4 linked regions of the Homo sapiens genome follow. The protein of the gene in region 4 interacts with the protein of the main gene of each other region in a pairwise test. Each region holds a gene or a part of one and is shown on either strand. Other genes may lie near its edges.

Evidence for each region. The genes of interacting proteins can lie anywhere in the genome.
Region 1: the proteins of GIT1 (region 4) and TRIB3 interact in a two-hybrid assay, tested with the Homo sapiens proteins (one large-scale study listed by BioGRID and IntAct).
Region 2: the proteins of GIT1 (region 4) and HMOX2 interact in a two-hybrid assay, tested with the Homo sapiens proteins (2 studies listed by BioGRID and IntAct).
Region 3: the proteins of GIT1 (region 4) and GRK2 interact in binary tests that used the Homo sapiens proteins (3 or more experiments, as listed by UniProt).

What each region holds. Positions count from the first base shown.
Region 1 is NC_000020.11:387,260-390,759, reverse strand, and holds part of TRIB3 (tribbles homolog 3), read right to left. Parts: intron 2,750-3,500; coding exon 2,459-2,749; intron 1-2,458. UniProt on the Homo sapiens protein: Inactive protein kinase which acts as a regulator of the integrated stress response (ISR), a process for adaptation to various stress. Inhibits the transcriptional activity of DDIT3/CHOP and is involved in DDIT3/CHOP-dependent cell death during ER stress.
Region 2 is NC_000016.10:4,507,398-4,510,847, forward strand, and holds the end of HMOX2 (heme oxygenase 2), read left to right. Parts: intron 1-315; coding exon 316-807; intron 808-2,014; coding exon 2,015-2,141; intron 2,142-2,231; coding exon 2,232-2,359; 3' UTR 2,360-2,950; downstream 2,951-3,450.
Region 3 is NC_000011.10:67,283,473-67,287,056, forward strand, and holds the end of GRK2 (beta-adrenergic receptor kinase 1), read left to right. Parts: intron 1-234; coding exon 235-301; intron 302-381; coding exon 382-477; intron 478-738; coding exon 739-901; intron 902-1,374; coding exon 1,375-1,511; intron 1,512-1,602; coding exon 1,603-1,716; intron 1,717-1,813; coding exon 1,814-1,978; 3' UTR 1,979-3,084; downstream 3,085-3,584. UniProt on the Homo sapiens protein: Specifically phosphorylates the agonist-occupied form of the beta-adrenergic and closely related receptors, probably inducing a desensitization of them. Key regulator of LPAR1 signaling.
Region 4 is NC_000017.11:29,583,149-29,586,648, reverse strand, and holds part of GIT1 (ARF GTPase-activating protein GIT1), read left to right. Parts: intron 1-3,032; coding exon 3,033-3,166; intron 3,167-3,500. UniProt on the Homo sapiens protein: GTPase-activating protein for ADP ribosylation factor family members, including ARF1.

The DNA.
Region 1 (3,500 bases), on a different chromosome or scaffold from region 4:
AAAGGGCTGGGATTACAGGTGTGAGCCACTGCACCCGGCCTTTTGTCTGTGCTCTTAACTGCTACGCTATATGGCCTCAAACATCGGATAACTGAAAAGTAACAGGTCACCCAAACAGAAAAATAACCCACAAAGCAGGAGGAATCCGGAAGGGCGGATGATGCAGAAGGCACCTGATGCTCATCACCGTCACAGCTCCCGTCCTCTTTGCCCACCCACGCTTTCATTCATTCAGTATGCTGGCCCTGGGCCTGCACGGGCCAGCCACATGTCCAGCTAGACTGACAGCCATGGGCTCTGCTCTCCGGTGCCCACTGGGAGGCCATGCAAACATGCCCAGAAACCAAATATTGACAAATGCTGATAAGCATTGCAAAGGAACCAAGAAAGATGCTGGAATAAGGGTTTTCCTGTTTGTTTTTTGTTTTTTTGAGACGGAGTTTTGCTCTTGTTGCCCAGGCTGGAGTGCAGTGGTGTGATCTCGGCTCACTGCAACCTCCACCTCCCAGGTTCAAGAGATTCTCCTGCCTCAGCCTCTCGAGTAGCTGGGATTACAGGCCCCTGCCACCATGCCCGGCTAATTTTTTGTATTTTTAATAGAAACAAGGTTTCACCATGTTGGCCAGGATAGTCTCGAACTCCTGACTTCAGGTGATCTGCCTACCTCGGCCTCCCAAAGTGCTGGGATTACAGGTGTGAGCCACCGCGCCCGGCCACCTGACACGTATTTTACTTATTCGCTTGTTTAGTGTCTGTATCTCCCACTAGAACGTCAGCTTGATGAGAACAGAACTTTGTTTTTTAACCACAGCATGGTACATGGCAAATACGGGTGCTCAATGAAGTTGTGTTGAATTAATGAATAAGTTGATCATTTACAAAGACAAGATTTTGATCTTTCTACACACTGACCAGAAAAGCTGAGGAAGTGTGGAAATGACCATTCAGCACCCATGGTGCACATTGGCATAGGGGTGAGTATGTTCCAGTGGATTTTCCCAAATGTTTCTTGAGAATCAGGGCCCTGTGAACGCATGGCGCTTCTCTCCTGAGCCTGCTTGGGTTATTCCTCTTATCATGGACTCACCTCCCCAGCGGGAGTGGAAAAGAGCCTGTGATGCTGCAGGAAGGGGACCCAGAGTTCTGGGCTCCTTAGGGCACCTGGTAAGGGCGCTGGAGATCTGTGCACAAGAGGCCAGGTGAAGCTAGGGGCTGGACCCTGTCTGGATCTGCCCCGCTGTTCACTGCATCTCCGTCAACAGAGCAAAGCTCTGCTGCTGCCCCAGGAGGAGGCTTAAGTCCTTCTGCTTCTCTGTGCATTCCCAAGGGACCCAGGCCCCCGCTACTCTCCCTTGGGTTTCCAGGTCCCCCTTATCTTCCTTATGCTTGCCTGCCAGGGCAGCCTGCCCTGATTGTGTGAAACGCTTATCCTAGCACGGGCACAGGACTCTCTGGGCTCAGCCTCCTGGGCCCAATCCCAGCTCTGATACCACCTGGCTCTGTCATGTGGCAAGTAACCATGGCTTTCTGAGTCTCAGTGTCCTCTATCTATAAAAGGGGCACAATGATAGAAACCACCTCATTGGTTGTGTCAAGATTAAAAGAGATTGTGCACACTAAGCAATCATCATAGTACCTGGTGCACAGTGAATACCTATTGTTACACTTTTTATTCTCATCTCTGTCTTCTTGGACTGTCACTTGTCAGTGTCCTGCATGGGCTGACCCTCAGGGGCCTTGACCCTGTCCATTTCCTGGTTTCTGCCAGGAATCCTCAGACTTTTCTACCCCTTAGTTTACCCCAGGAGCCAGGCCCAGTGCTATGTGACTTCACGCATGGCCCTTCTCCTGTCTTCATCTCAGTCTTCCTATCTGTAAAATGGCCCCAGGTTAGGCTCGATCACCTCCGAGGTCCCAGGAGTTTTGATGTCTACCATGCCCTACCCTTCTCTTGTGCAAACATCTTCAGTAGCTCCGCACAGCCCAGTGGAGGCCCCTTGTTAACACCTTCATGACCAGCTGCTGCCAACCTTCATCTCCTGCCCCTTTCTGCACATCCTCTCCACTCTGGCCACAGAGAAGTCCTTTTCATTCTCTAAAGTGCTATCCCCTCACTTTTCTAGGCCTTTGAACAGCTGTTCCCCCTGCCTGCAACTCCCATCTCCCACTTCTACCTGGCTAACTTCTGCTCGGCCTTTTCTGCGCCCATGATCCCTAAGTTCTACCCCTGCAGCATTTATCACACTGTAGGGCCTAAGCTGTGAACTCCCCCAGGACTGGGACGACCTCTGGTTTACCTCTCTAGTATCAGTCCAGCAGGGGCTCCCTGGATGCTTCCCCACTAAACAAACACAAGAATGAATGAACATAAGGACCCCTCTGCACCCTGGCAATCCTTTGGAGGCCTCCTTCCCAGGCCTCCTGTGGTGCTGGGGGACAGCCGCCCATGGGCACGTACCTTGCAGGTATACTCAGTGCCTGTAGGGCAGTGCAGGGCCTGGTAGGCCCGCCCGCCCTCCTCGGGCTCCAGGAGGACATAGGGCCCAAGACGGGAGGCAGTGGCCACAGCAGTTGCACGATCTGGAGCAGTAGGTGGGCTCAGGGGCAACAGGCAGGGGGGCAGTCTGGGCTGGGGCCCACTTCGAGCTCGTTTCTGGACGGGACGCTCGGTATCTAAGTTGTCATCCAACTCCAACCGCTTCTTCCTGGACAGGGAACCCGCAGGAGCAGCCAGAGGGGTGGCTCGCATCTGGTAAAAAGGAGAGAAAAGCACTAAAGTGAGACTGCTTGGTGGCCCCTCCTTTCCCCTGCTGGTGGGAGGATACGTGGCACAACATTTATAGGGGGTGATCTGGCAGTGTGTGTTAAAATGACAAAGTCACATATCCTTAACTGGGTGCCCCACTTCTGGGAATTTATCTTCCAGTTAAACTTCTCACAAAAAAATTAAATATAGTAAAGGCTGTTCATCAGAGCCTTGTGTCCAATAGCAAAAGCAGGAAATATCCCAAATGTCAGGCAGTAGAAAGCTAGTGAAAACATCATGGTATAGCCATACAGCAGAATACTACACAGCCCTGAAAAAGGACAAGGAAGCTCTCTATATACTGATGCGTACTGATCTCCAAGATGTATTAAGAGAAGAAAGACAAACACAGAATTACGTGTTATAGAATGCTTTTATGGTGGGTTTTTTTTTTTTTTTCCCCAAGAGATGTTGCCCACGCTGGTCTCAAACTCGTGGCCTCAAGTGAACCTCCCACCTCAGCTTCCTAAGTAGCTGGGACTCTAGTAGTGAACCACCACACCTGGCTATACTTTTATGTTAAAAAGAATATATATAAATATGTTATATATATGTATGTATTTGTTTGAATATCTATCATCTCTCTCTCTGAAAGGATGCACAAGATTAGGAGGAGACTCTTACTATTACAGTTCACTTGCAGCCTCGACCTCAGGGTTCAGGTGATTCTTCCACCTCAGCCTCCCAAGTAGCT
Region 2 (3,450 bases), on a different chromosome or scaffold from region 4:
TCGTCCCACTGTACTCCAGCCTGGGTGACAGAGCGAGACTCTTTACCCCGCCAAAAAAAAAAAAAATTGGTTCTCATGGCTTAGATAGAATAACATAGTGGTGTGAAGGAAGCAAAAGTATGCGTGTTCCAAAGACTTCACCATGCCATTCCTTTAAGAAACAAAAGCTTCCTTGTGTGTTAAATAATTCACTACATAAAAATGGACCATAGGATTGGGTCTTTGGGGTTGGGGGTTGTCACTTGAGCCTCTGCATCCAGCTGCTCGGATGTGGTGTGCTCAGGCATAGCTGGCCTCCTCCTGTCACCTCCACAGCTGGCCACCACGGCACTTTACTTCACATACTCAGCCCTCGAGGAGGAAATGGAGCGCAACAAGGACCATCCAGCCTTTGCCCCTTTGTACTTCCCCATGGAGCTGCACCGGAAGGAGGCGCTGACCAAGGACATGGAGTATTTCTTTGGTGAAAACTGGGAGGAGCAGGTGCAGTGCCCCAAGGCTGCCCAGAAGTACGTGGAGCGGATCCACTACATAGGGCAGAACGAGCCGGAGCTACTGGTGGCCCATGCATACACCCGCTACATGGGGGATCTCTCGGGGGGCCAGGTGCTGAAGAAGGTGGCCCAGCGAGCACTGAAACTCCCCAGCACAGGGGAAGGGACCCAGTTCTACCTGTTTGAGAATGTGGACAATGCCCAGCAGTTCAAGCAGCTCTACCGGGCCAGGATGAACGCCCTGGACCTGAACATGAAGACCAAAGAGAGGATCGTGGAGGAGGCCAACAAGGCTTTTGAGTATAACATGCAGGTACTATTGGGGGCTGCCAGCTGCTAGGGCTGAAGAGGGAAACTTTGACAGTGGTAGCAGATCCATAGTGGCCCATGAAGGCACACATGGCATTAGGACAGATGAGCTGCAGGGTGCCGAGAGGAAGGTGGCCACCAGATTGGCCACCAGAGCTTGTGGGCCCAGTGGGTGGTTCCCAGCATGGAGGCCTGGTGTGATAGATGCCAGTGGGTAGTGTTTTGGGAAGGGTGAGTCCTCTCGCACATAGAGGGGTCTGGAAGAATGGAGCTGGCTTCCTCCCTCATTGCAGGATGCTGGTCTTGAAGAATGGTTAATTTTCTTTTCAAGTTTTGCTCTGAGAAGCCCTGCTTTATAAGTTAATAGAGAGCCAGTGCCACCAAGGAGAGTAAATAAGCTCTGTTTACAAGTAGCCTTTAGATGAGGCTGAACCTGGGGAAGCTTACTCTGTCCCCAGGTCCTGTCAGCTTCCACTGAGGCCTCCCAGGGCACTCAGGATGAGTATGCCCTGCCACAGTCTCATTCTCCCATGTTCCAGGTTTTCTGTTGCTTCTTGATAAAAAAATAACCAGCACCTAGAAATGGGGATGTACTCATGCCCTCCTGTCTGTGCTGTGGTAGTTTCAGTGGCTTGAGCCACCTCAGAGAAGGCTACATCTCTGGTCAGTTCCCAGGGGAGACCCAGCATTTGGCAGCCTTCTTGGGGTACCAATATCCACACCTCCCCAGAGCTCTTGCTAGGGAGGGAAGACCATCAGGCAGTGCAGCTGCCGCCCACCAGTGCTGCTTGCTGTGTAGTTGGCACACCTGAGCAAGCTCACCTGCTCCAGCTCACTCTCTCTGGAGGGCGTCCTCTAAAAGGAGAGTGTAGCCAGGCGCAGTAGCTCATGCCTGTAATCCCAGCACTTTGGGAGGCTGAGGCAGGGGCATTACTTGACCCCAGGAGTTGAAGACCAGCCTGGGCAACCAAGGTGAGACACCATCTCCCCACAAAATTTAAAAATTAGCCAGGTATGGTGGTACACACACGTAGGAGGATAAGGTGGGAGGACCACTTGAGCCTAGGAGTTTGAGGCTGCAGTGAGTTAGCCATGTTCATAACACTGCACTCTAGCCTGGGCAACAGAGACCTCATCTCAAAAGACATTTAAAAAAAAAAAAAAAGTATGGGCAGCCCAAAGATGGCTCAGTCGATCCTCTGCTCCTGCAGATATTCAATGAACTGGACCAGGCCGGCTCCACACTGGCCAGAGAGACCTTGGAGGATGGGTTCCCTGTACACGATGGGAAAGGAGACATGCGTAAATGCCCTTTCTACGCTGCTGAACAAGACAAAGGTAGGTCTGTGTGTCCTGAGCTCCCCTCCTGGGGCAGGTGTAGCAGGAGACTCCACTGATGCCATGTCTCCTATTGGTGCTGCCACACAGGTGCCCTGGAGGGCAGCAGCTGTCCCTTCCGAACAGCTATGGCTGTGCTGAGGAAGCCCAGCCTCCAGTTCATCCTGGCCGCTGGTGTGGCCCTAGCTGCTGGACTCTTGGCCTGGTACTACATGTGAAGCACCCATCATGCCACACCGGTACCCTCCTCCCGACTGACCACTGGCCTACCCCTTTCTCCAGCCCTGACTAAACTACCACCTCAGGTGACTTTTTAAAAAATGCTGGGTTTAAGAAAGGCAACCAATAAAAGCCAGATGCTAGAGCCTCTGCCTGACAGCATCCTCTCTATGGGCCATATTCCGCACTGGGCACAGGCCGTCACCCTGGGAGCAGTCGGCACAGTGCAGCAAGCCTGGCCCCCGACCCAGCTCTACTCCAGGCTTCCACACTTCTGGGCCCTAGGCTGCTTCCGGTAGTCCCTGTTTTTGCAGTACATGGGTGACTATCTCCCCTGTTGGAGGTGAGTGGCCTGTAAGTCCAAGCTGTGCGAGGGGGCCTTGCTGGATGCTGCTGTACAACTTCTGGGCCTCTCTTGGACCCTGGGAGTGAGGGTGGGTGTGGGTGGAAGCCTCAGAGGCCTTGGGAGCTCATCCCTCTCACCCAGAATCCCTCTAACCCCTTGGGTGCGGTTTGCTCAGCCCCAGCTTATCTCCTCCTCCGCGCTGTGTAAATGCTCCAGCACTCAATAAAGTGGGCTTTGCAAGCTACCTCCTTCCCTGCCTCCTGGCACCGGGTGGGTCAAGCCACCTCCCCATAGGAGAGTCCCTCAGAAGCAAGGGCATGTTATGTCTGTGTGGGGAGTGGACATCGTCCATCATGGCTCCCAGCAGCCACCTCCTGCTCTGGGTCTACTCTCCAGCACCTCTAGTCTCCAAAGCAAAGTCACTCTAACCGTCTTGCAAAGATCTTTAAAGTGTATCCAGCACTGCTATTTTTTAGCTCAGAAATACCTTAGAGGTTTCCTACTTAAAAGGTTTTTTTAAAATATATATATATATTTAAAAATAAGGGTTTTAAAAAAGCACATATTTGTATTTAAACAATTCATTCTCTAAAAGAGAAACATGAACTTAAATAATTTTATTAATAGGAATCTACTACCTGTAAAAGTTTTATTTCAAAAAGGGTTAAAAAGTAGGGAAACTCTTTAAACTACTGACCAAGACTGCCACCTTCATAATTCAGATGAGTTAGTGCAGAGATGGCC
Region 3 (3,584 bases), on a different chromosome or scaffold from region 4:
TTTTATGTTTATCAAACATTTATTAAGCACTGGGCATAGGGTTGCAAAATTTACCAGTGTTAAAACCCACAACCCTACGATGTAGGAACTTCTGTTCTCCCATTTGAGAGATGAGGAAACAGCTCAGGCTTAAGGAACTTGCCCAAGTTCACAGAGCCAGAAAGTGGCTCAATCAGGAGTTAAGCCCGGGACTCAGGGTGGGGCTGAGCCCAGATGACTGGCCTCTCCCCACAGGGCTCAGGAGGTGAAAGAGAGCCCCTTTTTCCGCTCCCTGGACTGGCAGATGGTCTTCTTGCAGAAGGTAACAGTCTGCGGCAGGGACTGGGGGTGCTCTGCAGCCCCACCCCCGAGCTAATGCCCATGACCCCTGTTCTGCTGCAGTACCCTCCCCCGCTGATCCCCCCACGAGGGGAGGTGAACGCGGCCGACGCCTTCGACATTGGCTCCTTCGATGAGGAGGACACAAAAGGAATCAAGGTACTGGGCCTTGCCTGGCCTCTTGTACCTAGGCTGTGATCCTGGCCTGGGGAAGGATCCCTCTCCCTTCTTATCACCTGTGAGACCCTGTGCCAGCCCTGCCAGCTTGTAGGCCTCAGTTCCTCCTTGGCCAACTTCCCTGGGGGGTGGCAGTTGCACTGACCATCCCTACCCAGGGCCCTGGGTCTGGGCAGCCTGTGGCTGATGGTATTCCGGCATCTCTGTCCACCCATGTGCCCCTGCCCCATCCACCTGGTAAAGTTACTGGACAGTGATCAGGAGCTCTACCGCAACTTCCCCCTCACCATCTCGGAGCGGTGGCAGCAGGAGGTGGCAGAGACTGTCTTCGACACCATCAACGCTGAGACAGACCGGCTGGAGGCTCGCAAGAAAGCCAAGAACAAGCAGCTGGGCCATGAGGAAGGTGAGGGTCGCCGGCTGCTGCGGCACCAGGCCCCTGCCTGCTTAGAAGTGAGCAGCTGGCTCGGGTTTAAGGAACTCACCCTGGATCACAGCCAGAAAGTGGCGGCTCTGGGATTCAAACTCAGGCTGGGGCCGGGCATGGTGGCTCACGCCTGTAATCCCAGCACTTTGGGAGGCCAAGGAGCGCAGATCACTTGAGGTCAGGAGTTTGAGACCAGCCTGGCCAACATGGTGAAACCCTGTCTCTACCAAAAAATACCAAAAAAATTAGCCGGGCATGGTGGCACGCGCCTGTACTCCCAGCTACCCGGGAGGCTGAGGCGGGAGGATCGTTTGAACCTGGGAGGTGGAGGTTGCAGTGAGCCAAGATTGTGCCACAGCCCTCCAGCCTGGGCAACAGAGTGGAGACCCTGTCTCAAAACAAAAAAGAAACCCAGGTGGGGCCGGCTGAGTCTCCTCTGTCTCTCGCCTCAGACTACGCCCTGGGCAAGGACTGCATCATGCATGGCTACATGTCCAAGATGGGCAACCCCTTCCTGACCCAGTGGCAGCGGCGGTACTTCTACCTGTTCCCCAACCGCCTCGAGTGGCGGGGCGAGGGCGAGGCCCCGGTAAGGAGCCCGTGCGGGGGTCCGGGAGCCGGGCTTCCGGGTGGCTGGCCGGCCCGGCTCTTACCTGCACCACCCATCCCTGGCCCTGCAGCAGAGCCTGCTGACCATGGAGGAGATCCAGTCGGTGGAGGAGACGCAGATCAAGGAGCGCAAGTGCCTGCTCCTCAAGATCCGCGGTGGGAAACAGTTCATTTTGCAGTGCGATGTGAGTGGGGGCTGAGCCAGGGATGGGAGGGCCGAGGGGCCAGGCCAGGCAGGCTGGGGAGAGCCCCAGCTGACAGAGCTGGGCTTGGCATGTGCAGAGCGACCCTGAGCTGGTGCAGTGGAAGAAGGAGCTGCGCGACGCCTACCGCGAGGCCCAGCAGCTGGTGCAGCGGGTGCCCAAGATGAAGAACAAGCCGCGCTCGCCCGTGGTGGAGCTGAGCAAGGTGCCGCTGGTCCAGCGCGGCAGTGCCAACGGCCTCTGACCCGCCCACCCGCCTTTTATAAACCTCTAATTTATTTTGTCGAATTTTTATTATTTGTTTTCCCGCCAAGCGGAAAAGGTTTTATTTTGTAATTATTGTGATTTCCCGTGGCCCCAGCCTGGCCCAGCTCCCCCGGGAGGGGCCCGCTTGCCTCGGCTCCTGCTGCACCAACCCAGCCGCTGCCCGGCGCCCTCTGTCCTGACTTCAGGGGCTGCCCGCTCCCAGTGTCTTCCTGTGGGGGAAGAGCACAGCCCTCCCGCCCCTTCCCCGAGGGATGATGCCACACCAAGCTGTGCCACCCTGGGCTCTGTGGGCTGCACTCTGTGCCCATGGGCACTGCTGGGTGGCCCATCCCCCCTCACCAGGGGCAGGCACAGCACAGGGATCCGACTTGAATTTTCCCACTGCACCCCCTCCTGCTGCAGAGGGGCAGGCCCTGCACTGTCCTGCTCCACAGTGTTGGCGAGAGGAGGGGCCCGTTGTCTCCCTGGCCCTCAAGGCCTCCCACAGTGACTCGGGCTCCTGTGCCCTTATTCAGGAAAAGCCTCTGTGTCACTGGCTGCCTCCACTCCCACTTCCCTGACACTGCGGGGCTTGGCTGAGAGAGTGGCATTGGCAGCAGGTGCTGCTACCCTCCCTGCTGTCCCCTCTTGCCCCAACCCCCAGCACCCGGGCTCAGGGACCACAGCAAGGCACCTGCAGGTTGGGCCATACTGGCCTCGCCTGGCCTGAGGTCTCGCTGATGCTGGGCTGGGTGCGACCCCATCTGCCCAGGACGGGGCCGGCCAGGTGGGCGGGCAGCACAGCAAGGAGGCTGGCTGGGGCCTATCAGTGTGCCCCCCATCCTGGCCCATCAGTGTACCCCCGCCCAGGCTGGCCAGCCCCACAGCCCACGTCCTGTCAGTGCCGCCGCCTCGCCCACCGCATGCCCCCTCGTGCCAGTCGCGCTGCCTGTGTGGTGTCGCGCCTTCTCCCCCCCGGGGCTGGGTTGGCGCACCCTCCCCTCCCGTCTACTCATTCCCCGGGGCGTTTCTTTGCCGATTTTTGAATGTGATTTTAAAGAGTGAAAAATGAGACTATGCGTTTTTATAAAAAATGGTGCCTGATTCGGCTGTCTCAGACTCTTTTTGTACCTGGTGACCCCTTTTCAGCTTCTGCTGGGCTGGGGCCTGATGGGGAGGGTCTCGGTGGTACCAGGTCTCCTCCACCGCCATGGCTTCCAAGGTGGTCTGCTCGGGCCCAGGCCATCTTCCAGGTGGGGTGAGGCAGTGGGTCCCACTTCCCCTCCTACCCCTCCCAGCTGACAGTCCTCTCCACCTAGTGGCTGTCCAGTGCCCATTCCTCACCTTTTCCCGGGGAGGAGAGAGCAGCTTCTGCCACTTCCCAGGTAAGCAGGAGGAGGTGCCAACAGTGTTAGGCCTGGCACAGTGTCTGGGCTGACTGGGACCGTCTCAGGCCCACAGAACACCCCTGCACAGCAGGCACCAAGCTGAGGCCCCTCCCCAGAAACAGTCACAAGGCACCTCTTCCCTCTAGGTCACACCGCAGCCTCTGGGCCCTTGGCCATCTCTGGCTTCAGCCTCCTCTCTGGCCTCACTGCACAGCC
Region 4 (3,500 bases):
GCAAGGCCGGGGACATGTTACGGGACAAGCTACAGGCTGATTTGTCTCTTCATAGTGTAGATTGCAGAGTGGGACAAATGTTGGGCTCCTCTTCCTCCCTTATGGAGGTAGAATTTGTGTGTGTCAATGCCTGCACCTGAGTGTTCATCCTGATGGGCTTTTACATGTGTGTATACCCATGTAACTACTGCTCTGATCATGTTATAGAATAAGGGTATCCAATCTTTTTGCTTCCCTGGGCCACATTGGAAGAAGAATTTTCTTGGGCCACACCTAAAATACGCTAACACTAATGATAGCTGGTGAGCTAAATAAAACAAGCAAAAATAAAAATAAAAAATAAAGTCACAAAAAAGTCTCATAATGTTTTAAGAAAGTTTATGAATTTGTGTTGGGCCACATTCAAAGCTGCCTGGGCCGCATATGGACTGCAGGTTAGACAAGCATGTTATAGAACATTTCCATCACCTTAGGGGGCTTCCAAGTACCCCCTCCCAGTCCGTGCACCCCAGAGGTAACCACCATTCTGACTCTACCCCAAGGACTACTCTCGCCTGCCTTCATGATGTGGGCTTTTCCCTTAGTCTAGTGGAGATCTGGCCCTTAGCTCAGGGGAGGGAGGCCTGAGGCTAGCCTGTATGTGCAAACCTACTGGCCCTGGAGGCCACTGATGGCTTCAGGTGGTGGCAGGAATTCACCGTAGTAGAGGCCTCCATGGGGTTGGCACTGGTTAACGTGATCCCAGGATCACGCCTGCTACCTCTCCACACATACAGACCCATACCCTGCCGGTGGAGCCAGAAGCGCAGGGGGAGGGCTGACGAGTTCCCTTACAGTTCCTGTCCTTTCCGTCCCAGGTTTGGTCCAAGGAGCTTCTTGACGCAAGGATCCCTTCACCTTAAACTACAATCTGGGTAGTCCCAAGGGCACTTGCACAGAGGGAGGAGACAGAATGGTTAGGGTGGGCGTCCCATCTGTGTCATCCAGAAATGAGCTGACACCAATAGCGGCTGCCCAGACCAGGACAGTGTCCTTTGCCTACCATTCTTCTCAGGTCACCTGGAGGAGAAGGAGAACCCCTCCCCCAGGCTGGGGGAAAGTGCCAGGCAAACCCTTGGACCACACTCCTGCATCCTGGTCTTGGTTACTGCCATAGCCAGGGTCACTCACCACATCTGGTCTGCCCATGGCTTAGGGCTCTGGAGCCATTGGCCGTGGATATATAGTCAGCCTTCCATGCCTGGCTTCTCCGGTAGGACCACAGACCTCAGATCAGCCCATTTATGATCCTGCCCTGGGCGGCTCCCCACTTACAGGAAACCCCACCAAGAGGAATTTGGGCTGCATCATTTCCGGCTTCCTGCCTGGGCTGCTGGAGGTGGCTGGCTGGCAGCCCCCTGACCCAGTGGTGTTTGGAGTGGGGAGAGGGAGGTCTCCACACCTGGGGTGCCTCACTATTTGGGTAAAGCCAGCCCAGAAGTGCATGCTAGGGCTCCCCCTCTTGGCGAAGAAGGCTGGTCCCTTCCTCCTGAGCCCTGGAGTCAGCCCCCCAGGAAGGTGTTGGCGGTCACCTTGGGCATCCCTCTGTTGCCCTGATTGGGAGGGGGTCCCTTAAAAAGCCTAAACCCGCTGCACTCCAGCCTGGGCGACAGAGCGGGACTCCGTCTCAAAAAAAAAAAAAAAAAAAAAGCCTAAACCCAAAGACAGGCCTCTCTCCTTTACTTCCTGTTTTCATGCCTCAGTGGGGGTCACTTGCTGTGGGCAGAGCTCAGGCTGGGCCCCTGACTCAGAGTCTCCTCAATTTTCCTGGGAACTTTGGTGGAAGTCCTTAGAGGGGAAAGGCCTGAGAATTGCCTTCTAGTTGGGAGAGATTCTTATCCCCCTAAGCCTGTCCCTCCCCTGATGGGGATACTTCTGAACACCCTGAGCGCTACAGGGCAAGGCAGAGAGCCAGTCCCCCACCCCCACCCCAGGACAGGGTTTCCTGAGACAGGGTGGGGGCCGCTGGGCAGAGCAAAGTGTCCTGGGAGAGAGGCGCCCTGCCCCCACTCTCAGGCGGCACACAATGGCTGCTTTCTCCCCCGTGACCTTTCCGCAGCCTGAGTCGTATGCAGCTGTCTCCCAAGGGGCCTAGGATGGGTGGCATCTCCTCCACCCTTGAGAAGAACCCCGGAACTCCCACCCAGTCCTGGCCCTGCTTCTTCTCCCAAGTTCACTTTTCCCAAAAGAGTGGAGAGCAGGCTATAGAGGCAGAGGGACAGCAGCAAGTGTGGACATGGCATGGTCTCAGGCATGAAAGTGCCACATCCTGGCAATTCTACTCATTAGCCTCGCATCCTTGAATAAGCCCTTTAACCTCTCTGAGCCACTGTTTCTTCATCACAGAGGTAGCATGTCCTACCTTGCCTGACAGTTGCAAGCAGCATCACACATAATGTACCCAGCTGGTACCTAGTGGGTGCCCAGTCAAGCCCAGCTCCTTTGCTCTGTCCATCTTCCTTAAGAGGGCTCCAGCTTACACCCTCAGTGATGATGGCAGGAGGCTCCAGCATGAAAGGACCTCACCTGCTGGCAGGAGGCCAGAGGCAGGACCTGTGGACGGGTGTGATCTGTCAGGCATGTTTCAACAGCATCTGGCATGCAGCAGCATCTGGGTTGCATCCCCTTGGGGATCCCTTCCTCCCTTCGGGACGGGCTGGGGCAGAGACCTCGTTTCCTGGGAAAAGGCTGAGAGACTGGTAGCAGTGGCTGCAGGGCAGGAAACTGTGCCTGCTGAATGGGCCCTGGGGACTGCATATCCCAGAGGGGTAAGGATGTAGGAAAGGGCATGGCTCTGTCAGCCCCCAGCTGTGAGCTCTTGGGGAGATCCCTCACTGGTAACCTGGCCGTAGTGATGGTCCCAGCTCCTAGGCTGTTGGAGACTGAGTGAGTGAATGTGTGGAGAGTACTAGGCTTGGCACGGGCCAGAGCAGGTGCTCAGGAGGTCTGGCCCATCATCTGGCTCCGGCTGACCCTTGCCCTCACCCTGGCAGACCCTGGCTGGGCATCCATCAGCAGGGGTGTGCTGGTGTGTGACGAGTGCTGCAGCGTGCACCGGAGCCTGGGACGCCACATCTCCATTGTCAAGCACCTTCGCCACAGCGCCTGGCCTCCCACGCTGCTGCAGGTACAGGGCTCAGTCGGGTGGTTCTTCCTTCCCCTCAGGCAGAGTGTGCTGAGCATGAGGGCGTTTCCCCCTCACCCACATACACCCCCATCTGGAATCTGCAGCTTCCAAGGGGCAGCACCCCCCTAGGGCAGAGGCTAATCCTGACCCTTTCCTCCCATCTACTCACTTCATGCAGAAGAGTAGCTCACACCCCTGCTCTGCCACTTATCAACGTGGTCGTGTAGCATTGAGCAAGTTGCTTCACCTCTCTGAGCCTTGGCACACTCATGGGATCTGTGTCTTTGGGCAGCTGGACTAGATGGAGGTGTGGTGGTGCGGGCACACAGTAGGC